Regions from separate parts of the Homo sapiens genome. Here region 2 is linked to region 1. The links come from fine-mapping of genetic effects on plasma protein levels. A gene starts in region 1. The other region holds a variant in brackets. All regions are shown on one strand. Distances are from middle to middle.

Region 1 (5,371 bases):
ACCAAGGAGCACAGTGGTAAGTCATTGGCAGCTGGGCAGGTTGCACAGCTGGGGAGGATGACCCAAGTGAGCTGAATACTGGCCAAGGTCCTGTTCTTCTTTCACGGCTACCCTGCTTCTGTCACAACCCCCATCGTACTGAACTGCAGTTGTCAACTCCCTGGCTGATTCCCTGTGAAACAGAGCTCCTAGGGAAGAGCCTAGGTCCAGACCAGCTGTACAACTTGAATGGTCCAGTGTAAAATACAACTTATATGGCCCCTTGTTCAAAAATTGTTAAGATTTCAAGAAGGTGGCAGGACAGCATTAAACTCTGTATGAAGCCCTTCTAAGTGAGTGGCCTATGTCAGGGGTCCCCAACCCCAGGCCACAAACCGGTAATGGGGTACTGGTCCGTGAACCCTATTGAGAACTGTGCATGTGAGGGATCTAGTTTGCACACTCCTTATGAGAATCTAACTAATGCCTGATGATCTGAGGTGGAACAGTTTTATCCTGAAACCATTCCCACCCCCCACTCCCACCCCTGGTCCATGGAAAAATTGTCTTCCACGAAACAGGTTCCTGGTTCCAAAAAGGTTGGGGACCTCTGGCCTATGTGACTTCATAGGTCATATGCCCAGGAAGCCAGCCTTGCCTCGGTCTTATTCGTCACCTAGAGAGAGCTCAATAAATCCTCATTGAATAAACGAGTTTGGGTTTCTCCTGCAACACTGAATCATGTAATCATGGGGAAAGAGGAGGTGGAGATCCTCATCCTTCCCATGGTCCAGGCTAGCTCCATAGCCTGGGGCCAATCAGTGAGTATCAACTGTGCCTCAGTTTCCTACATCCATACATTGGAAGAACCATCTTTTCCCTGTCGCTTTTCTGCCACGGGCCAAGAGTAAAAGAGGCACGAATGTACAAGCTGAACTTGCAGCAGTTAATGTGATGGCTCTGTGATTCTGAAGGGCACCATGAGGCGTGGTGTTCTGTTAAAGAAAACGCCAGCAAATTAGAGACATCCCCATAGAAGCCAGAAGATGTGGTTAATGTTTGCAACATGAAATGTCTAGGTGTTCTGAGGTGGGCTAAAGGACAGTTGCTTTTCTTCCCTATTAAATAGGTGGTTAGACTCAGACACAAGGGAACAGGAAGCAGAATGGCATCAGAGACAAAGATGACTGCATGGAGTTTGGTGAGAAACCATCCTCAAAGCAGCAATTTTTTGGATGAGTCTCAGCCTTTCTGAGCCTCTGTTATTCCAACTGTGAAGTGATACAATTAACAATAACAAAAATTTGATAAGAGCAAATACATTTGGCATTTTTAATGAACCTACTACTATTCTAAGCCCTTTAAAGATACACATTTATTTCGATTCATAGAACACCCCATGATGCAGGAGCTGTTACTATCCACATTGTACTGATGGAGAAAGTTCCAGTAACTTGCCAAGGACGTAGCTGGCAAGTTGGAGCACTGAGATTCAAACCCAGGGCTTTGGCCTCCAGAGTCTGTGCACTAACCACTGTAATACCTCTGAGACTGTAAGGGGCAAATGAATGACAACGCATTGATTTAGAAGTGAAAGGCGATCTAAACGTGCAAGTATTAACACTATTAAAAACAACAATAACAATGGTAGGTACCTCCGATGCCTCTGACCTTATCTCTCTGGTCACAGTTTTCTGCTCTGTAAAATGGGTGGGCAGGCTTTACACTGGATAATCTCTGAGGCCCCTTCCACTTCTCAGATTCTGATAATGAAATGTCCTTCTTTCCTCACATAAGGCTGAGAGAAGGTCAAGCCACCAGCTTGCAGACCTTGGGAGTTGACACAGGGAAGCATACCCAGGACAGAGCCAGAAAAGCCAAGGCACGCAGTAGGGACACACCAGAGGGCAGGCCTCAGAGCCCCTGACAGCCTTCTGAAACTCTGGCAGGGTGGAGGGAGGTTGTGGGCTAGTGGCTGGCTGGGCTGCAAGGAGAAGAAAGGACTCCACAGAGTAATTTATAACAGCTGCTCAGTAAGTGCTAATTTGTTTCTCTCCACCTTGGAATAGGACTTAGCGCGTGTGAGAGGGGGATGCTACTACATAAACCAGTACCAGAAAGATGGGCTTGCCAGGAAAGAACTGGGGCACTCTGCAGGGGCAGTGTCTGGGGAAGGGTTCTCCAAAAAGGTGACATTTCAGAGGGGCCTGGATGGATGAGTAGGATTTCAACAGGCAGAGATGAAAGGGGAGGGTGTTCCAGGCAAAAAGAAGAACTCCCAGCAGCCATGAAGAACAGCTGGTGTTTGGCAACAGCTAGTGTGTCCAGAGCGAAAGTGTTGTGTGTGTGTGAGGGAGAGAGGGTGAGGCTGGAAAATTAGGTTGTGGCCGGAGAGGGCAGGGTGGGCCTTGCCTTGTGCGCTAAGCTGAGGGGTTATCCTGCAGCCGGAGCACCTCGGGAGGCCTTTGAAGATTTACTCAGTGCTTTATTAACAAATACGTATTGGGTTTTTGGTGTTTTGTTTTGTTTTTAACGATTCATGCCCACAGTAGAATATATAGAAGAGTCAGAAAAGTATAAAGAATAAGGATCCCCTTTAGTTTCTGCTCCCAGAGGTAACAGCCGGAGTGACGCCGGGCTGCTGCCGGGTTTTCGGGGGTGCACTCCCAGACACCACCTCTCCAGTGAGCCAGCGAGGGCCGGACTGATGCCCCACCTTGGGAGCCTGAATCGGGGCAAGGGGCCTAGGGAGCAGCGGGACCCCGGAAGCCCGACCAGTCAGGCCGGCTAAGTCGGCAGCCGCCCCGCCCTCGCCACCCAGCCTCCCTGGCGGCCTCAGGTCGCGCCTGCAGGCCCGGACCCCACCGCTTGGCGCGCGCACGTCCCGGAGGGCGTCCAGGGGGCGCCGCTTCCCGTTCAGCTCCGCTGAGGGGCTGGTCCAGCCCGCGCGGCTCGGAGCGGAAAGAGTCGGGCGGAGCAGGCGGCTGCTTGACAGCTGAGAGCCGAGCGGGCGGCGCGGGCAGGTCCACGGGAAGCCTACACGCCCAAGGTAACGTGGAGGAAGGTTGAGGGTGGGCGGCCGGGGCGGCCGGGGGGCGGCGCTTCCTGCCTGCTCCTCCGGCTGCGAAGTGTGAGCGCGTGTCTGCCGCACATGGAACTCGCAGAGGGCCTGGATGGAGGCTGTGTGCCCTTGGGGGGGAACAGCTGGCTCCCCTGCCACCCCCAGGCCTGGCCTGGCCCTTGCTCCCCTCCCTGTCACTCGGTAACGGGACTGGAGGAGAGCCGAGAAGCACTAGGGTTTTGGTCAGGAAAGGACCTTAGGAACCCTCCAGCCTCATCCAGCCTCTTCATTTCACAGATGAGGAAACTGAGGCTCAGAATGGTAAAGTGACTTGCCCAAGGTCTCAAGTCTAAGAACCAAAACTCCTACCTTGCAGGTCAGTGCTACTAGGAGCCCTGGCCACGCAGGCAGCATCCACAACTGTTGCCATGCCGAGAAACAAAGAACCGAGACAGACAGTCAGAAAGACACAGAGAGAGAACCTCCCAGAGCAAAGGAAGGAGGTCAGGAAGTGGGCGGCTGCTGGGGCTTGGCTTCCGCCCTGGCCCCCGCGTGTGCTGGCCTGGCTGTGTGGCTCAGAGGCGTTGTGCTGACTCTGTCCGTGTGTGTGTGTGTCCGTGTGTGTGTGTGTCTGTGTGTGTGTGTCCGTGTGTGTGTGTGTGTGTCCGTGTGTGTGCGAGTGTGTGTCTGTGCACCCATGCATGCACGGGATGCAGCGAATGTACCCTGCCACGTGGGAAAGCCCTCTGAGTTCATTTATCTGTTTACACAGTGTGCTTAGGAACCTGCCCTGTTTGGCTCTGTGGAGGACACCAGGAGTCTCAAAGGAATTCGTTCTGTGTGACTCAAGAGGACAGAAAGAGCCAATCCGTGGGAGTCCCCAGGGTGGTCAGAGGGTCAGGAGGAAGAACCTAACTCATGAGGTGATGGGTTCCTTGTCTCTGGAAGAAAGCAGCATGTACCGAAGAGTCTTTTTATCAAGGATGTGGGCATAGGGATATGAAATCAGAGCAGTTTGCTCCACGTGGAATCAGCATTTTTGTTGAAGGGTCCAGAGTTCATGCCCCTTTTCAGGTGAAATGAATATGTACAACCTCATGGTTTAGTATTTGCCCATAAGAGCTACTTCATGCGCAGTTTTTAAGTGATAAGTGAGAGGCTTCAGGTATGGCTTCCGAGGTCCTGTCACCTCTCGGTTCTATAAGTGAGAGGCTTCAGGTACGGCTTCCGAGGTCCTGTCACCTCTCGGTTCTATACTATAAAGTGTGTAGAGGGAGTTTGGAGGAGGGAGGTTACTTCTGGAAGGAGTGACTCGCAGAGGGCGTCCTGGATGTGGCACTGAGGCCGGGCCTTGAATAGGAGGCTGGGTCTGGGCATCTTGGGGAAGGACGGCTGAGCAAAGCCGTGAAGGTGGGTTGTACCTGAGGAGCAAGGAGTAATGTAGTGGACAATCCGGTGAGGAGTGCTGCCTGGGAGAGATGGCAGAGGCTTGGAGTGTTACGAGTCTAGAAACTTCATTATTAAGCCTAGGGATATTTTGATGGTTTCTAAGAAGGGAAGTGTTGTTCCTGGAGCTGGGTTCAGAAGAACATGTCATCTGCACCTGGGTATGGGATGTACTGCAGTGGAGGAAGCTGTGGGAAGAGAACCTGGGAAGAAGCCCATTGCAGTCACCATGAGGGGTTGAACAGGGCTGGTGGGAATGGACAGGAAGGGGCTAAAAGGCTTGGGGGTAGGGGAAAAGTCATCTGCCATGTGCCAGGGCCTGTGGTAGGAGATTTTCATGTTTAATCTCATTTAATCCTCCTGACAACCTCATGAGGAGATTGCTATGATTGTTCCATATTGTAGAGGAGGAAACTGAGAGAGAGGTTAGGTGGTTTATCCAAGGTCATACAGAAAATAAGTGGTGGGATGGGGATTTTAACCCAGAGAACAATGGAGTAGATGCAATCTGGTAACTGAATAAATGTCAGGGACCAGAGCAGAAGAGACCAAGATGATGGCGATTTGGATTCCAGAGTTAGAGTGGCTGGTGATGCCACTGACAGAGATGGAACCCCAGGTGTGGGGGGTGATTGGAGATGCGTCACGCTGTGGTGAGCCTGCAGAAGGCAGGCCCCAGCACTGGGGCAGTGGCCGCAGTAGCCATCCATTCTGCCTTGGGGCTCCTTGTTGCAATGGTTTGCTGAACCTGTTGTGGGGAGGGAGGGTTGAATCTGCAGGCTGCCTGGGTACTGGCAATGCAGCTGAGAGAAGCTAGGGGAGAGCTAGTGAGGGATTCCTCAGGGACAGGCTAATCACCCACTGAGTTCACATCTCTCTCTTGCT
Region 2 (5,371 bases), 71 kb after region 1:
TTGGGGATAGGTTCCAGCCCATGCTGAGGTCCGGAGGGAATGAGTGGATGAGCAGAAACAATACTCAGGGGGCCGTAGGCAGGTGAATATGGTTTTATTCAGCAGCAGCTTTCATCAACAGCTTTCTCACACTGTCCGCCCTGTCTTGGCTACTTAATCTGGCGGCTCCCACACACAGCTGCGTGGCCCGCTCTCCCTTGCCTTCAGGGTCAGCAGCTTAATTCTTTCTTTGGGCATGTGTCCTGGCTCCCCGCAGTCTGTCTGCAATGACAGGCAGCTCTGACTCTCTCTCTTTCTCTGGGCACAAGCGCAAGCATGCCTGCACAGTGTCAACAGGACAATTATATCTTTTACAGACAATAGTGGTGTACAGCCAAGTGATGGCCTTCTCATGTTATGGCTACATGGCTGTGATAACAAGTGGAATTATACGCCTGCACTCTAAACTTGCTGACTCACGCAGGATGTAAACATTCTACCTCGGTCTATCTTTGACCAAAGCACAGCCATATTCCTTACACAATGTATGGAGGCATTTTTTATTGAAACGACTGGTGAGGGAAGTGCTGCTGGCGTTTAGCAGGCAAAGGCTAGGGATGCTGCTACATATCCTGTAATACACAGGATGGTCCCTCCCCTGCCTTCCCCTCCACTACCCCCTTAACCAAAAATTGTCCATTCCAAAATGTCGGTAGTGCCAAGGTTGAGAAACTGTGGCCTATACCACGTAATCAGCCCAAGCCAAGCACATCAAGGTGCAAAGCAGGATAAAGGTTGATCCTGCCCTCCCACCTCCCACTCTCGTCCTAGAGAGATTTGGTATAGCTGAACTGTACCACAGGGAAGAGGGTGGTTGGTGCTGGAATGGGGGTCTGAAAAGAATGCTGTGATTGCCCCAAAAGGAGGGACAGTGTAATTCTGGACATAAAAAATGGATATCCTCTGATTTTTTCCTCAATAAAAATGTCATGGAAGCATGTTTGAAGCTGTGCAACCATACACTTTAAGCTACATGGGGTATGTTACTGGGCTGGTGACTAGGAAGGTAAAGGAGCCTGGCTGGAGTGCAACAAAAGACATCACTTTCCCGTGGCTCTGGGGCATGAACTCTCAGTACTGCTGCTGTAGATGCCTCATGTTCTAGGTTCTGGAAGGTTGCCAGTCACTATGAGTCTTGCTGAGAATTAGCAGTTGGGCTGGTCAGGTTCTGGAGTGTGTGAGGTCTAGACCAGCACTCTGTACATAGGAGCTCAGGGTCTCCTGCCATTGCTCTTAGTCAAGCGCTTATCTATGCCTTCCTTCAACACTTATCTAAATAGTCCATGTTTGTCAGCATTGGGCTAGATCCTGGGGACACAACAGTGCCTAACGAATGAGGTCCCTGTTCTCAGAGCACTGAGGGAGCAGACGTTCATCAATGAGTCACATCTATCAGTATATAAAATGCTAATTGGGAAAGATTTATGAATGAGAGAAAGGTAGTTTGGGGAGCTTGTATAACCTGACCTAACCTGGGGAGGTGCAAAGGCCTTACGGAGGAAGTGACGCAGGAGCTGAGAGTGAAGAAAGAGTGAGGCTGGTGTTTAAAGGAGCCAAGGAGTTCTCAAGAGCTCCCAGGGCCATGGGCAGTACGAATAGGAAGCTGAGTTCCTCCTCATGCCTCTCTTTTTCCCTGGCCCACCCTTCCAGGTGTGTGAAAAGCTGTGCGTGCCACAGGATCTCTGGAAGGCTGGGTCTTGGTGCTGGCAAGAGAGACTTTGTGTTCTGATTTTGGTGGTGCTGGTAGGTGGGTAGGTGTGGGAGGTAATGAAGGTGAGGGAATAACAGAATGAATGCCCTGGAGAACTATTAGACAGTTGCTCAAGCCCTGGATGGAAAATCAGTTCTTTTCCCAGCTGTGGTCTGCACTGTGACTTTAGGCTAATCTCAGAGCCTCACAGGCCTATTGCACAGTGGAATAAATAATCTTGCTCCCCTCCACCCTGCTTATCTCACTTAGTTAAAAATGTAGGCCAGGTCCAGTGGCTCAAGCCTGTAATCCCAGCACTTTGGGAGGCGAGGCCAAGGCAGGTGGATCACAAGGTCAGGAGTTCAAGACCAGCCTGGCCAAGATGGTGAAACCCTGTCTCTACTAAAAATACAAAAATTAACTGGGTGTGGTGGTGGGCGTTTGTAGTCCCAGCTACCCAGGAGGCTGTGGCAGGAGAATCACTTGAACCCGGGAGGCGGAGGTTGCAGTGAGCTGAGATCACATTACTCTGCTGGGTGACAGAGCGAGACTCTGTCTCAAAAAAAAAAAAAGTAATAATAAAAATAATAAAAATAATGTAAACAGTACCAGGGGACCATACCAGAATAAGCTGGTTTTCTGTGGCTCTGTAGGCCCTGAGCAGAGCGATAAATAAGAGATAATTATGGTTATTAAGACTAAAAGATTTTTCAAGGAGGGCCAACAAAACAAGGTGAAAGAATCAGGTGTAGTGAAGAATCAGGTATAGAATCAGTTGCAGAGAAGGCTGAAGAAGCACTCAGCGCTGACTTGCCAGCACTTGAGTAGTAAGAATTACTTGGAACCTATAATATTGCTTTCCCCATCTTTGCTGACAATGGGAGGAGGAAACTGACTTGAGATGTAGACAAGAACTGGGATTAGACAACAGGGGGATTTGGGGTTCGAAGTGCTGCTGGATTCAGGAATGGTGCCTAAGGTGAGCTGTGAACTAGCCTCTCCTGGTTCATGCTAACATGAGAAAAGTGTGTGGGGTGTTTGAGTGAAAGGCATGTTGAGGGTCCCGTTGATCTCTGGAATTTTCTTGCAGCTCATTTCTTGCTCCAGCCCAGTGCGAGAGACCACATTTTGAATCAGATCCAGCAATCCTAGTCTGAGG[G/A]TGGGGAAGGAGGAAGGATAATCCAAAGGAAGGACTGGAATGTGAGCGTGACAGGAGCTTGCGCTTTTACCCTACCTCAGGTGTGATGCTTCTTATTTCCAATGATGCTAATAAAATCCCTGCTTGCAAAATTGACTCTCTCCTCACCCGTGTTCTCCTACTGTAGCTTTTGAGACAGCTGGTTTATGGATTGTTGATAAGTCAGAGATTCTGCTGAATGCTAAGCAGATATACTTCCAGAATCTTTGCACACTCTCTCTCACTCTCCTTCCTTTTCTGAAAAGCCCATTCATATTTAATTCAATTCTTCTAAATGGCTTCCACATCAGCCTGTCTTCCCACTTTATAATGCATCATAGTCTCCCTTAATGCATGTACCTGCCAAATTAAGCTTTATGGCTTATCAGCTAGAACTGCCATAGGATCAAGCCAAGTATTCTTGCCAATTATGTTATGGGCTTTCACACCTGCCAGCTCTTTTTTATTGTTGAGGTTGGTATATACCTTTCTTCTTACAAAGCCCCGCATTCATTGTTTTCAGCTGTCAGTCACTTCCACACTGGCAATTTCGCACGGTTACCGCTTAGGTAACTGGGAGGAAGGGAGAGGATCGGCTGAGATATAACTCTCTGGGGAGTTCTCATTTGGAGACCTAGATTATTTGGGTATGAGGGTACACTTGCTTCATCTATGCAAGTTAGCCTTGGCTTGGGGCCATTGCACATCGGGCAGAAGGCCAGAAGGGAGCAGCAACAGCTCAGCTGCTTTGCTCTTGGGCCTATTAATTGTTCTCTGCCCTTCCCTCCTTATGAGGTCTGAGTCTGCTCTAGACTCAAATCCAGCGATAACCTCCTCACACTATCTTGTCCAGTCCCCCTTTAACACACAAATACTCTTGGGGCCTTGATACCTTAAGCCAATGGCAGTTGAGATCTTATTAGGAATTCCTTACCAGTCAGCAGGGAGCTGGAGTGGAACCTGGACTCGGGGCCTGGGTGTGGGTCACTCAGAGGTAGGAAGGGGGATTATCCCATATCCCCTCAGAGCTCAAGCACCAAAATGTGTGTCCACAGACACTTACAAATGCAGTGCTGAGGCAATGGGACACCAGGGGCCTCCAGCAGGAGAGGCCTCAAGTAAGTGACCCGCACCCGCATCGTGGTACGGGAGAGGAAAGGGGGCTTAGGGAGAGCAGGGAAGACAGGGTTTGAAGCCTGGCTCTGCCACGTACTTCCTTGAGGGGCCTCAGTGGGCCATGAGTCTCTCTCTCTCTCTGCCTCCCTACTACTTTATATTGAATGCTTTCTGTATGCAGGCACTGTTATATGCTTTACATTCATGATTGCATTCAACTTTACAGCACCATGCTGTGTGAGTATTATCCTGAAAGTATTTGGTCCTGTACAGTTTGAGTCCTTTACAGATGTTGAGAGTGCTGGCTTTGGAATCAGAGCTGGATTTGACTCCTGGCTATGTCATTACTAGCCATGTGACTTTGGAGCAGGTAATTTCACCTCAAACTTCATCTGTAAAACAGAGATAATAGTGCCTAGCTCAGAGTGTTGTCATGGGAATTAAATGCAGATAGATAAATAAATGCATATTTACATATTTGTTTATTTATAAATCACCTAGCAAATGGCCTAGTACATTCGTAGGCACCCAATCAATGGTAGTTGTGCTAACATGCAAAGGAGGAGAGGGATGGTGAAGCAGTCTGGATGCAGAAGCTTTCTACTGGCTTTTGTAGGACTGGGCCGAACTCTAGACACTTTCTGGCAGAAGGCTCTGCAGTCCCAGGTCACCTCCCCCACCAGTGAGTGTCAGTGTTAACCAGTACACTCTGGGTTGTTTTCAGAGGCTGCATAAGGAGCTACCGCTCAGCCTGGAGGAACTGGAGGATGTGTTTGATGCCCTGGATGCTGATGGCAATGGCTATCTGACCCCACAGGAGTTCACTACTGGATTTAGTAAGTTCTGATGGGTGCTGGGGACCTCAGGGTTATGGGTCTACCTAACACTGTATAAGGTGCATTCCTGTCCCTTGTAGACCTGGGGGGCAGGTAGTAAAGCTTTCCTGCCCTCCTTTCAGGGACCTGGAGCTCAAGGTCTCCAGGCTCTAGATTGCTTGGGCCTCCTCACATGCCCGTCTCAACTGCTTACATTGCCGCTTGCTCAGTGCCCACTGCACTGCCATTACCAAGCTCCCTCCCACTGGGACTGGCAAGGGAGATGGACGGAAGCTCTGCAGAAGCCATAGCATAAAAGGGGGAGCTGTGATGAGATTTGCAGCCTCTCCTTTTCTGCCTTCATAGAAAAATGGCCAAAAGGTGGGACAACTGGATGGCTCATTCCAACCCAAGTCTGGCTGAATTTTCCAGGTTGAGGGATAACAGCTATCAGAGGAATTTCTAGAAGGTTTGAACAGACTAGACATTCTCAAGGTAACCAGGAGGAAGAAGAATCGAGATCTATGAACAATA

Direction of the effects. Alleles are on the strand shown, and positions count from the first base shown. The strength of an association depends on the size of the effect and on how common the allele is.
As copies of G replace A in region 2, the plasma level of the protein whose gene starts at base 2,934 in region 1 goes up (weak association).

What was found. PIP is the posterior inclusion probability: the model's chance that the variant is causal. Protein levels are from antibody-based Olink assays in UK Biobank. Linkage for the fine-mapping came from a reference panel and not from the study's own genotypes, which makes the PIPs less certain.
Region 2: its variant is fine-mapped to the plasma level of the CRACR2A protein (UK Biobank, PIP above 0.99).

Annotation. Positions count from the first base shown.
Region 1 is chr12:3,750,672-3,756,042 of GRCh38, reverse strand. It overlaps CRACR2A (calcium release activated channel regulator 2A), which reads left to right and starts at 2,934. Exons shown (of 20, transcript NM_001144958.2): 1 at 2,934-3,028. RefSeq lists a silencer at 2,700-3,199.
Region 2 is chr12:3,679,725-3,685,095 of GRCh38, reverse strand. It overlaps CRACR2A (calcium release activated channel regulator 2A), which reads left to right. Exons shown (of 20, transcript NM_001144958.2): 5 at 4,747-4,858. Among named protein-coding and RNA genes, the nearest start is that of CRACR2A, 71 kb to the left of the region's middle. The variant G/A (reference allele first, on the strand shown) is at 2,889.